Homo sapiens: one gene and its partners. The protein of the gene in region 1 purifies or fractionates together with the protein of each later gene. This does not show direct contact. Each region holds a gene or a part of one and is shown in the gene's direction. Other genes may lie near its edges.

What was found.
Region 2: the proteins of DBI (region 1) and SLC25A32 fractionate together in Homo sapiens (co-fractionation; one large-scale study listed by BioGRID). This does not show direct contact.
Region 3: the proteins of DBI (region 1) and GALM fractionate together in Homo sapiens (co-fractionation; one large-scale study listed by BioGRID). This does not show direct contact.

The regions. Positions count from the first base shown.
Region 1 is NC_000002.12:119,365,577-119,369,914, forward strand, and holds the start of DBI (acyl-CoA-binding protein), read left to right. Parts: upstream 1-1,400; 5' UTR 1,401-1,475; coding exon 1,476-1,484; coding exon of another isoform or gene 1,485-1,514; exon of another isoform or gene 1,515-1,760; coding exon of another isoform or gene 1,761-1,952; intron 1,953-1,982; exon of another isoform or gene 1,983-2,008; coding exon of another isoform or gene 2,009-2,068; intron 2,069-2,137; exon of another isoform or gene 2,138-2,343; coding exon of another isoform or gene 2,344-2,355; intron 2,356-2,611; coding exon 2,612-2,729; intron 2,730-4,338.
Region 2 is NC_000008.11:103,398,138-103,401,771, reverse strand, and holds the end of SLC25A32 (solute carrier family 25 member 32), read left to right. Parts: intron 1-110; coding exon 111-256; intron 257-1,225; coding exon 1,226-1,361; 3' UTR 1,362-3,134; downstream 3,135-3,634. UniProt on the Homo sapiens protein: Facilitates flavin adenine dinucleotide (FAD) translocation across the mitochondrial inner membrane into the mitochondrial matrix where it acts as a redox cofactor to assist flavoenzyme activities in fundamental metabolic processes including fatty acid beta-oxidation, amino acid and choline metabolism as well as mitochondrial electron transportation.
Region 3 is NC_000002.12:38,672,487-38,676,135, forward strand, and holds part of GALM (galactose mutarotase), read left to right. Parts: intron 1-3,425; coding exon 3,426-3,580; intron 3,581-3,649. UniProt on the Homo sapiens protein: Mutarotase that catalyzes the interconversion of beta-D-galactose and alpha-D-galactose during galactose metabolism.

The DNA.
Region 1 (4,338 bases):
CAGGGCAGAGATTTGTAGTCCAGCCCTCTTGCCACAAATTATGAATTAGAGAGGAATGACTTTGCTTTTTTAATGATCTCCAGAGAATTTTCCATCATTTCCCTCTCTTCACCCAGCTCCTTTGCAACCACTGCCAGAGAAGTCTTCCTTTAGCTTCTTAAACATCGATCCTAAAACACTTCCAGACACCTGTGCTGCTCCTTTCAGTTCCCATGGAGATTAGGCTGTGTAACAATCTCGCAAAGACGTTCCCCTCCGTCTCCTCATCCTCTTTTCAAACCCTTTTACGATTTCCCATCTCACTCAGCATGACAGTCAAAGTCCCTGTGATGGCCAACTTCTGCATCACCTAGCCAGTCTGCCACCGCCAAAACTCTCCAGCCTCATCTTTCTACTCTTCCCCTGGTTCCTTGCCCACGCCTTTACACTTGTTCTCTGCTTGGAATCTTCCCTCCCCTCCTTGAGGAACTTTCTCAAATGTCACCTTCCCTCAATACTCCCCCTCCTCCATTTAAAACTATAAACTTCCAACTCTCTAAGCCCCTAAAGTACTCTATATTTAACTTATTGTATAAACTACTGTCCCTACTTGTAAGTTCCAAGATTGCAGGGATTCACCCGCTTTGTTCACTGCTGTCTGCCAAGGTCTAGAACAGTGCAAGTTACCCAACAGGAGTTCAATAAACAGCCATTCATTTAACAAATATTTGCTGAGCACTTCGTCCCGTCCAAGTTTGTTAAATCAAGACAAATAAGACACCGTCCCTGCCTTTAACGCACCAGATGGAGAAATGCACCACAGACATAAATGTGCAATACAGGCCTGACACTACGGCCACAAGCAAGTCAAAGAACGTGCCAAAAGTTCAGAGGAAGAAGCCTCGGCTTCGCCTTTCGGGAGACCAGTCCAGCTTTCCACCATCACGCTGCTCATCAGGGACCATCTCCGGGGGTCTCCTCTAGACCCCAAGGGAGGAGCGGGTCCCGCCCGCCATTCCCAGGTCTCAGAGTTTACTTGTCCAGAGATGCAACTTCCGGCCTCTTCAGGCCGGGCAAGATTTAAGGAAAGAAAAGAAACATAAGGACCTCCGTTCTTCGGTCTCCGTCCCCTCCCCTTCCCCCGCGTGCCGTCCCCACAACGGGCCAGGACTGAACCCAACTCTCGACCAACTCCCGGCAGCAAAACTAAGCACCCTACTTCCGTTGTCCCCACCTGTTCCCGGCGTCCCCTTCGGCTACTCCCGGCGTTTGCGCAAGCGGTCCCACGTGGGCTCGGGCGGGGCTAGCGCCGCGGCGGGGGCTGGGCACGCCCCTAGCGCATAGCTGGCTTCTGATTGGCTTTCCGGTGCTCGCCCGAGCAGGGTTGGGGCGAGTGGACCGCGCCTCTAAAGGCGCTTGCCAGTGCAATCTGGGCGATCGCTTCCTGGTCCTCGCCTCCTCCGCTGTCTCCCTGGAGTTCTTGCAAGTCGGCCAGGATGTCTCAGGTACAGCGCGTGCACAGCCAGGCTGCGAAGGTGCAGCGGGCGGGAGGCCCGTTGGGGGCTCAGCCGGCTGCCAGAAGCTCTCGGGCTCTTTCCTTCCGTGCCCCTCACTTGCTCATGGGCCCATGCCTAGCCCTGATTCGTTGGACAGAGCCTTGTGAGCGGGATTTTCCGTTTGGGGATTTCTAAATCTGCTGCCCACCCCGCAACTGCCGGAAAGTTGCCCATGGGGTGGACTTCGCTGTGTAGCGGGAGAGGGGTGGGAGTCGAGGGTGCTTGATGGAGAGATGGGGGAAGGGGTTGCACGGATTGGAGGAGCGAGGAGACTCAGTCCCCATCCCGAAGCACAGGGCAGGACGTCGCGGCGGAGTGGGGAAGCGAGGAGTCCGTGGCCGAGAGCTTGGAGGTCAGGGGAAGTACGGGGCCGGCTGCTCAGAGTGCGGGACGAGGAGAATCGCGGCCCGGGGAGAGGTGACCCAGGGGCCCCTCCCTTCTCTCCAGTGTAGACCCTTGTCTGAGACCGAGCTATGTGGGGCGACCTCTGGCTCCTCCCGCCTGCCTCTGCCAATCCGGGCACTGGGACAGAGGTCGGTGTTGAACGCGCGGGCCCCAGGGGGAGGGAGGGGACCAACGGGCTCCGGCGCTGACACCGCGGCACTCATGCCCTGTCCCCTTTCAGCTGTTTCCAGCATACTGTGCCCCGTCTGTCCTCAGGCCAGGGCTTCGCTGCAGCCCCGGCCACTCCCTAGTGCCTGGCCCGGTGGTGGCCAGGCAGTTGGCCGCGCTGCTTCTCCCGCAGAGGGGACCCCCACTGGGGGCGAAGGCTTGGCCTGCCCTCTTCACTGCTGTATTTCCAGACCTGATGCCTGCGTTTGTGAGAGCTCTGGATATATGGTTTTCGATTGAATGAGTGAACTGGAGGGGCTTCCCCTTCTTGTGTTGCTGAATCTTTCTAGCTGCCCTGTTGGGGCAGGGAGGGGCAGACACACTTCAGGGGCTGCATTGCCCGAAGGGTGCCACCTTTCCCACCTCTCCATCCCCGTAACTGGGCTGTCATCAGGCCACAGTAGGATTCTTACCCTCTCCCACCCAGAGGAGGCCCTCAATCCTCTCCTCTCCCTTCCATTTAGGCTGAGTTTGAGAAAGCTGCAGAGGAGGTTAGGCACCTTAAGACCAAGCCATCGGATGAGGAGATGCTGTTCATCTATGGCCACTACAAACAAGCAACTGTGGGCGACATAAATACAGGTATGCAGAGCGGGGGTTGGAAGGGCATCTGCTCATCAAAGCAGGCTCAGCAGCTCAGACTGGAAGTCCCTGGGAACTTCACTCTCAAACTGCCTGAGGCCCTACTCTTCAGGTGGGGTATGGTGATGGTTCCTGAGGTGGAAAAGACCATGTTCCGGATTCTCAGTGTCTCCAGTAGTAACAGAATTCAAATCCTGGTTTTAGAAGGTCTTTACTGGTTATCACCAGCAGCTACTCTCTACTAGGGAAGAAGCAAAGGCTGCAGCTTGGAAAAGACTTGCTGAAGGCTCTCAGCTCAGTAGTATCATTGTTGAGCCGTTCAGCTTCTGCCCTAGATGGGCAGGATCAAAGTTGGAGCACTTTTTGGAGCACTTGACAGCCTGGCCAAGCCTGATGTCAGGAGCAGAGAAGCACCTGGTTTCTTGGGCTAGGTCAGAGCATTTCGCTAACAAGTCTGTGCCTTCCTGATGATAACTTTTTCCCTGCCCAGAAATCTTGGTGCAGATTTTGAGGCTGTGCTTTGGACTGTCATGTTCTGTAATAACATCTTTCCTGCCTTGGGCAGGTTTCATTCTGTCCCTAAGTCCCTGAAACATGGGTGGATACTGAGGCAACAGCGCAGTGCATTCTGTGCAAGGACTCAGGGTTATCATGGCAGCACAGAAGGGAGGTCTCCCCTGCCCCTGCTGAGGAAGAAGGCGAGCATGGTCCCTATTTCCGCAGTAGCTGGGGTGGAAGATGGAGCAGGTGGGCTGGCTGCCAACCAGCTGGAAGCAGGAAATAGTACCCAGAATGACAGATCACAGGCAGTACCATATCAAACCCTGGGGTTCACATGGAGCACTTAGTTGAAGAAGGTCTTATGGCGAAGGTGAGTTTTACAGTGAGTTCGTAAACTCTGTCCTTCCAGGGAGGGGAAGGAAAGGTGAAGTGGGGGAGGCCAGAGGTGCCAAGATGCTTTTCTGACAAACAGTATTTTCACAGAGACTGGCCTGTGCCCGTACTAGAGTTACCGATTTTCACATGAGTCTAGATAGACTGGCATAGGAATCTATCACTTACTGATCAAAGAGGTGTCATCGGCTCTCTCTAGGGCTGTACTATACAGCCCTATTACACGATTATAAAACATGATAGTCCAAACACGATAGTTTAGTATAATAGCCAGTAGCCACATATGACTATATAAATTTTAACTGAGGCTGGGCGCTATGGCTCATGCCTGTAATCCCAGCACTTTGGGAGGCCGAAGCAAGCGAATCATGAGGTCAGGAGTTTGAGACCAACCTGGCTAACGTAGTGAAACCCCATCTCTACTAAAAATACAAAAATTAGCTGGGCATGGTGGCATATGCCTGTAGTCCCAGCTACTTGGGAGGCTGAGGCAGGAGAATCGCTTGAACCTGGGAGGTAGAGGTTGTGGTGAGCCGAGGTCGCACCACTGCACTCCAGCCTGGGCAACAGAACGAGACTCTGTCTCTAAAAAAAAAAATTTTAACTGAAAATAGTTAAATAAAATCAAGTTTAGTCTTCATTCACAGGAACCACATTTCAGATGCCCAGTAGTCATTTCAGGTACTTGGTGTGGCAAGTGGCTCCTGAATTGGAC
Region 2 (3,634 bases), on another chromosome or scaffold:
AATAGAATCCCTTAAAGATCCATTTAAATGTTTTTTGTATATAATTTTTACTTCTGTATTTTTAAAGAAATCCTGTCTAAAGAAAAAACTGTTTTGTATTGCCATTTTAGAGCACAGTAGAATATATATCTGTTGCAGCACTATCCAAAATATTTGCTGTCGCAGCAACATACCCATATCAAGTCGTAAGAGCTCGTCTTCAGGATCAACACATGTTTTACAGTGGTGTAATAGATGTAATCACAAAGACATGGAGGTGAGAGCACGTGCTATATCAAAAATTGCTTTGACAAGGTACCTTGCATATCTTAGACCATCCTGTTGATACTAGTTTTATAGCAAAGGCCAGTTTGCTGTGGTGAAAACATGATTGGTGGTCCCTGCTTTCCCAGTTATTACGTATGTGACCATGGCCTTAATCTCTCTGAGACTTAATTTCTTCATTTGTAAAGTAAGACTTTCTAACTAATAGGTTGTTATAAGAATCAAATTAAATGTGTGAAAATGTTTTGGAAAATAAAATTTAGGTGTTATAAAATATCTGAATGGTATTGAATATAAGAAGTCATAAGACTAGCTTAATACATTCAAGAAGGCTCCACACCTGCTACTGGCACCATAACTTTTGCAAATACTTGTTTCCATATATGAAAGAGATGTTTGTTCTTCAGTATGAGACTAGTTAAATTATTATAGGCAGACATCACCATATTTCCCTTTAATTCTAAAGGAACAGAGGAGAACATTTAGGATGTTTAAATTTAATTCAATTCAAGAAATATTTAATGAGCACCTAAGTGACAAATTTCTAGGCCGTATTCCATATTATTGGCATTAAGGAAATAAAGTTTTATATTTGTATGTGCTGTATTTAATGTTGGCTAGCATTTATCCAAGCTATGAGGTTTTTTAATGCCTACATTAGGTCAATTAAAACTCCTGCTTGTACATACATTTAAAAGCATTTGAAAGATAGCTAATTGAAAGCACTTTTTAGTTCAGTTTTGAGGTGTCCCTACCCTCTCTTACTCAGTCCATCCATAAAAGGAATGTAAATCCCTACAGATGGCTTATAAACTACATTACTTTAGGACATTGAAAACATGAACTTAAATCAGAGTAAGGTTTGACTGCTGCTTGCTCCATGCCTTGTGTCAGTTAGAACTTCCGTGTTTTCAAGCTAGCTCTATACAAAATTAAGCATTATCTATTTTTCCCTCTAAAGGAAAGAAGGCGTCGGTGGATTTTACAAGGGAATTGCTCCTAATTTGATTAGAGTGACTCCAGCCTGCTGTATTACCTTTGTGGTATATGAAAACGTCTCACATTTTTTACTTGACCTTAGAGAAAAGAGAAAGTAAGCTCAAAGAGGACAATTCCAGTATATCTGCCCAAGGCAGCAACAAGCTCTTTTGTGTTTAAGGCATAAAAGAAGAATTCTGCATAGAAACATGGCTCATATTCGAAATTGCTCTATAGTCATTAGAAGCCAGAGAACTGCTAAGTCTCCTGCAATGTTTTTCTTGCTTTTTGCCTTCCCCATATATATGGAACTTGGCTACCTCTGCCTGAAATGGCTGCCATCAACACAATGTTAAAACTGACACGAAGGATAGAGTTTCACAGATTTCTACGTTTTATTGGTGGAAGCTGATTTGCAACATTTGCTAAATGGATTAGATGAATGTACTTCTTTTTGTGAGCTTACTTGCCTGGATTGCTTTAAAATTAACCTTTGTGCAATACCAAGAAAATAGCTCTTTAAAAGAATGTCTTTGTATGTCTCAAGGTAAATTAAGGATTTACTGAATAAGGTGTTGACCAAATCCAGACCATTTTATTTTATTTTTTTATTTATTTATTTTTTGAGATGGAGTCTTGCTTTGTCGCCCAGGCTGGAGTGCAGTGGCGTGATCTCAGCTCACTGCAACCTCCACCTCCCGGGTTCACGCCATTCTCCTGCCTCAGCCTCCTGAGTAGCTGGGACTACAGGCACCTGCCACCACGCCTGGCTAACTTTTTTTTATATTTTGAGTAGAAATGGGGTTTCACCATGTTAGCCAGGATGGTCTCAATCTCCTGACCTTGTGATCCGCCTGCCTTGGCCTCCCAAAGTGCTGGGATTACAGGCGTGAGCCACTGCGCCTGGCCAGACCATTTTAGAATTGGGAAATTTTAGTGAGAAAAAATGCACTGTAAATATGCTTTAGTTTTAATTCAGTTGGGATGCACTACCTAGCGAAAATTGAGAAACTATATACTTCTCAGAGAAATATCTGACATCTATTGTCATTCCATTGCTATTTTTTTTCCCCAGAGACTTCCATAATTTAAAATAAAATCCTAGATCCAGTTCTTGTTTTTTGGCATAAATACTTAATCTATTTTAAATTTATAAAATCTGAGCTTCTAGGATCCAGCTGTGTCAACCTTTATTTAGCATATATAACTATAAATCACTTATTACAGATGCTAAATAGATCACCTTTTACAGATGCTGAAATGTTTGGGATATGTTTGTTGACAAGGTAAATGGAAATGAGAAACTTTATACTTCAGTTTTCAGATATATGGATCTAGATCCCAAATAAATGATTAATCTTCATTGGTTTCTCAAATTCAGGTTGAAATACAAATTAATAGCCTTTATTGATTTTACTTTTATGAGTCATTGTAGACATCTATAAATATAAAAGGGCCTGTACCCAAAGGATGCCAGAATACTAGTATTTTTATTTATCGTAAACATCCACGAGTGCTGTTGCACTACCATCTATTTGTTGTAAATAAAAGTGTTGTTTTCAAAGCCATCTTTAAATAGTTCTTTAAAAATAGGTCTTTTTTTTATATTTTGGAAAAGGCATTGTTTTTAAAGTAAAGATAAAATGGTAAGTACCTAATTGTATTTACTGTAATATCTTATAACATGCAGATGAATGCTTTATAAGTTAAATATGATGTATTTTTTCATACTTCTGGATTATACTATAATTCATATGAAATCTTGATATTAGTCCCCACACGGAAAAAGTGAACTGCAGTTGATATTTGGTGTTTAAGATAGCACCATTGTTTAAATACCGCCTATGTACTCCCAAATGAATAAAACATAATTCTTGTCCTCTGAGAGCATACAAGCTTGTGTGATAGATAAATATGCATTAAATAATTACAGCTATAGATTAAGAACTCGTAAGGAATATCTCACAAAGCCTGGTAAGAGTTCTGACAGAAGAGAACTCAATTTCAGTCATTCAACAACAAATAGTCACTCAACTCCTGCTCTTTGGCAGGTACGTCACCAAGCACTGAGGATATAGCAATAAATAAGCCAGACAATATTCCTGCCCTCAGGGAATTTTCATCTTGGTGTAAGTGACAGAAAAGGAAATATATGCATAATGTAATTTCAGGTATTTAATGCTATAAATAAAACTACAGCAGAACGGGGGAATAGTGTTGCTATCTTAGGTAGTATGGTTGGGGTCAGGAAAGGTCTCTGAGATAGTATTTGGAACATTTTGAAAGAAGTGAGGAAGCGAGCCACAGTGAGAGGAAACACATTCTAGGCAGAGAGGACAGGAAGTAAAAAGGGCCTGAGGGAGGAATTAAGTTGGCTAGAGGGGATGGGTGA
Region 3 (3,649 bases), about 81 Mb from region 1:
CTGTGCCTAGGGATGGAGGTAAGGTTAATAACCAGAAAGCCTGCGCTTTTCACATAATTTGATACTGAAGAACATGGACTCATGAGCTAGACTGTCTGGATTCAAGTCTTGGTTCTGCCACTACTTAGCTGTGTGTTTTGGGGCAAGTTATTTAACTTTTCTGTCCTCAGTTTCCACATCTGTAAATTGGGATAGTAATAGTGTCTACATCATAGAAACGTTCTGAGTATGAAATGAAGTAAATGTAGAGCACTTAGAAAGTGGCTGGGACACACTTTGGGAGGCCAAGGCAGGTGGATCACCTGAGGTCAGGAGTTTGAGACCAGCCTGGCCAACATGGTGAAAACCCATCTCTATTAAAAAAAAAAAAAAATTTAGCTGGGCTTGGTGGCGGGCACCTGTAATCCCAGCTACTTGGAAGGCTGAGGCAGGAGAACTGCTTGAATCCAGGAGGCGGACGTTGCAGTGAGCCAAGACCGCACACTGCACTCCAGCCCAGGCTATAAGAGCAAAACTCCGTCTCAAAAAAAACACAACACTCAGTAAGTGTTAGCTATTATGATAGTCAATGGGCAACACTCTGATGCACCTGCAGATTAGCAAAGAAGCAAACCAGGAAAGGCCTGGAAGAGAAGGATTAATGTTTAATTTGTACCCAACCAGTTGGGTAATGGAAACCTGTGACCTGTAACTGGCCTAATCAGCTCAGGGTCTGTATCCTGAGAGCCTCTCCATCCCTTGAAAAAATAGTTCATATGCTTGAATTGCATTCTCTGCTGATCTGAAGTAGACATGACAGATACAGAGTACCACGGGAAAAGGGAATGGAATTCAGAGGACATCTAAGTGAAAACTAGAGTGGAAAGTAATCTTGGTAATAATACAGAAAACAATCTCCAGACCTTAATCTTTTCCATCGTAAAGTAAGCACAGAGGAATTTAAAGAGAAGAAAAGTACCATAATATGCCCACGCCCAAAGTTGTAAGTATGAGGACGCTACTTTGCTTTTTACAGCCCCTCCCCTAAAAAGGCCCCAAACAGTTTATGCTGATTATTATACCATGTAGCCATCAAAAGTAATATGGGGCCGGGGCGGGTGGATTACAAGGTCAGGAGATCGAGACCATCCTGGCTAACACGGTGAAACCCCGTCTCTACTAAAAATACAAAAAATAAGCCGGGCATGGTGGCGGGTGCCTGTAGTCCCAGCTACTCGGGAGGCTGAGGCAGGAGAATGGCGTGAACCTGGGAGGCGGAGCTTACAGTGAGTTGAGATCGTGCCACTGTACTCCAGCCTGGGCGACAGAGCGAGACTCCGTCTCAAAAAAAAAAAAAAAGGGAACTCAAAAAAAAATAAAAAGGAATATGGTAGATATGTCATGACATGGAGCAATCTGAAGATATTTGATAAATGAAAAGTTGCAGAACAATGTACGATTATAGTGTGATACTCTATGTAGTATGATTCTCTTTATATGGAATATGTGTGTTTGTGTATTTATATATTTGCTAATATGTAGTTAATTCAAATTTTTAAATGAAGTGTACGTGCCAGACTGTTAATAGTGGTTACCATTGGAAAGGAGGGGAGTGGAGAGGTGAAGGAAGGCTTTTGTGTTTTAGTCCTTGTTTAGGTTGCTAGACTTCACAAATAAAAGTACAGGATGCCTGGTTAAATGTGGATTTCAAATAAACAGCTTATACTTTTTTTTTTTTTTTTTTTGAGACAGTCTCGCTCTGTCGCCAGGCTGGAGTGCAATGGCATGATCTTGGCTCACTGCAACCTCTGCCTCCTGGGTTCAAGCGATTCTCCTGCCTCAGCCTCCCAAGTAGCTGGGACTACAGGCACAGGCCACGACACCCAGCTAATTTTTGTATTTTTAGTGGAGACGGGGTTTCACCGTGTTGGCCAGGATGGTCTCAATCTCTTGACCTCGTGATCCACCCTTCTCAGCCTGCCAAAGTGCTGGGATTACAGGCGTGAGCCACCGCGCCTGGACACAACTTTTAAAGTATAAGTATGTCCCATGTATAATAATAACATGAACAAACTTATACTAAGCAATTATTTGTTGTTTATTTGAAACTCACATTTAACCAAGCATTCTATATTTCCTCTGGCAAACCTACTCTATATCCTTGTGTATTACCTAACTCTCTCTAAAGGATATTTTAATGTACTAATTATGTGATTTAAAAAAATAAGAAGAGAAAGAATAAGATCGCTTCCCCTCAAGACCACACGAAAGTATAACTTTGGCCTAGAGAAAAGGAGATTACAAAGCAGTGTTATACAGTCCCCCTTCAACCATAGTTTTGCTTCCTGCAGTTTCAGTTACTCAGAGTCAACTTTGGATTGAAAATAGGTGCATACAGTACAATAAGATGTTTTGAAAGAGAGAAAAGCCTGGGCACAGTAACTCATGGCTGTAATCCCAGCACTTTGGGAGGCCGAGTTGGGCAGATCACCTGAGGTCAGGAGTTCGAGACCAGCCTGGCCAACATGGTGAAACCCCGTCTCTACTAAAAATACAAAAATTAGCTTGGTGTGGTGGTGCATGCCTCTACTCCCAGCTACTCAGGAGGCTGAGGCAAGAAAACCACTTGAACCTGGGGGATGGAGTTTGCAGTTAGCCGAGATGGGGCCACTGCACTCCAGCCTGGGCAACAGAGTGAGACTCTGTCTTAACAACCACCACCACAACAAATAGTTTTATAAAAAGAAAGAAAAAAGCACACAGATGCATATACTAAAAGATGGAAGAGTGTGTGCACATAAGAATATTAGCAGTGGCTCTCTCGAGTGATGAGATGAAGGATAATTTCAGTTTTTTCTTTGTGCTGTATAAAATTCTTTACAATTTTGTATAATGAATATTAATTACTTTTGGAAAAGGAAAGGATCGTATGTAATGAAAGCCATTTTCTGTGATTCAGTGAGGACTTTGACATGCCCAAGATGTTACCATGTGCAGCATTCGTCTGAAGAAGGTGAGGGACAGTGGCATGCAACACACCTTTGGATTGAGGGTTTTTTTGTTTTTTTTTTTTTTTTTTGTGTGTGTGTGTGTGTGTGTGTGTGTGTGTGTGTGTGTGTGTGTGATGGAGTCTCGCTCTGTCGCCCAGGCTGGAATGCAGTGGCGCGGTCTCGGCTCACTGCAAGCTCCACCTCCCAGGTTCATGCCATTCTCCTGCCTCAGCCTCCCGAGTAGCTGGGACTACAGGCGCCGGCCACCACGCCCAGCTAATTTTTTTGTATTTTTAGTAGAGACAGGGTTTCACCGTGTTAGCCAGGATGGTCTCGATCTCCTGACCTTGTGATCCGCCTGCCTCGGCCTCCCATAGTGCTGGGATTACAGGTGTGAGCCACCGTGCCCAGCCTGAATTGAAGTTTTAAAAGTGCTGTCATCCCTTGTCCTTGCAGGATACCTCCAAAAGCAGCCATACTTTGGAGCAGTTATTGGGAGGGTGGCCAACCGAATCGCCAAAGGAACCTTCAAGGTGGATGGGAAGGAGTATCACCTGGCCATTAACAAGGAACCCAACAGTCTGCATGGAGGAGTCAGAGGGTTTGATAAAGTAAGTACGGCACATGTGACTGAGTTCCCTTTAGGCTCACTTTACGCATACCTTCTGCTTGCCAGGCAC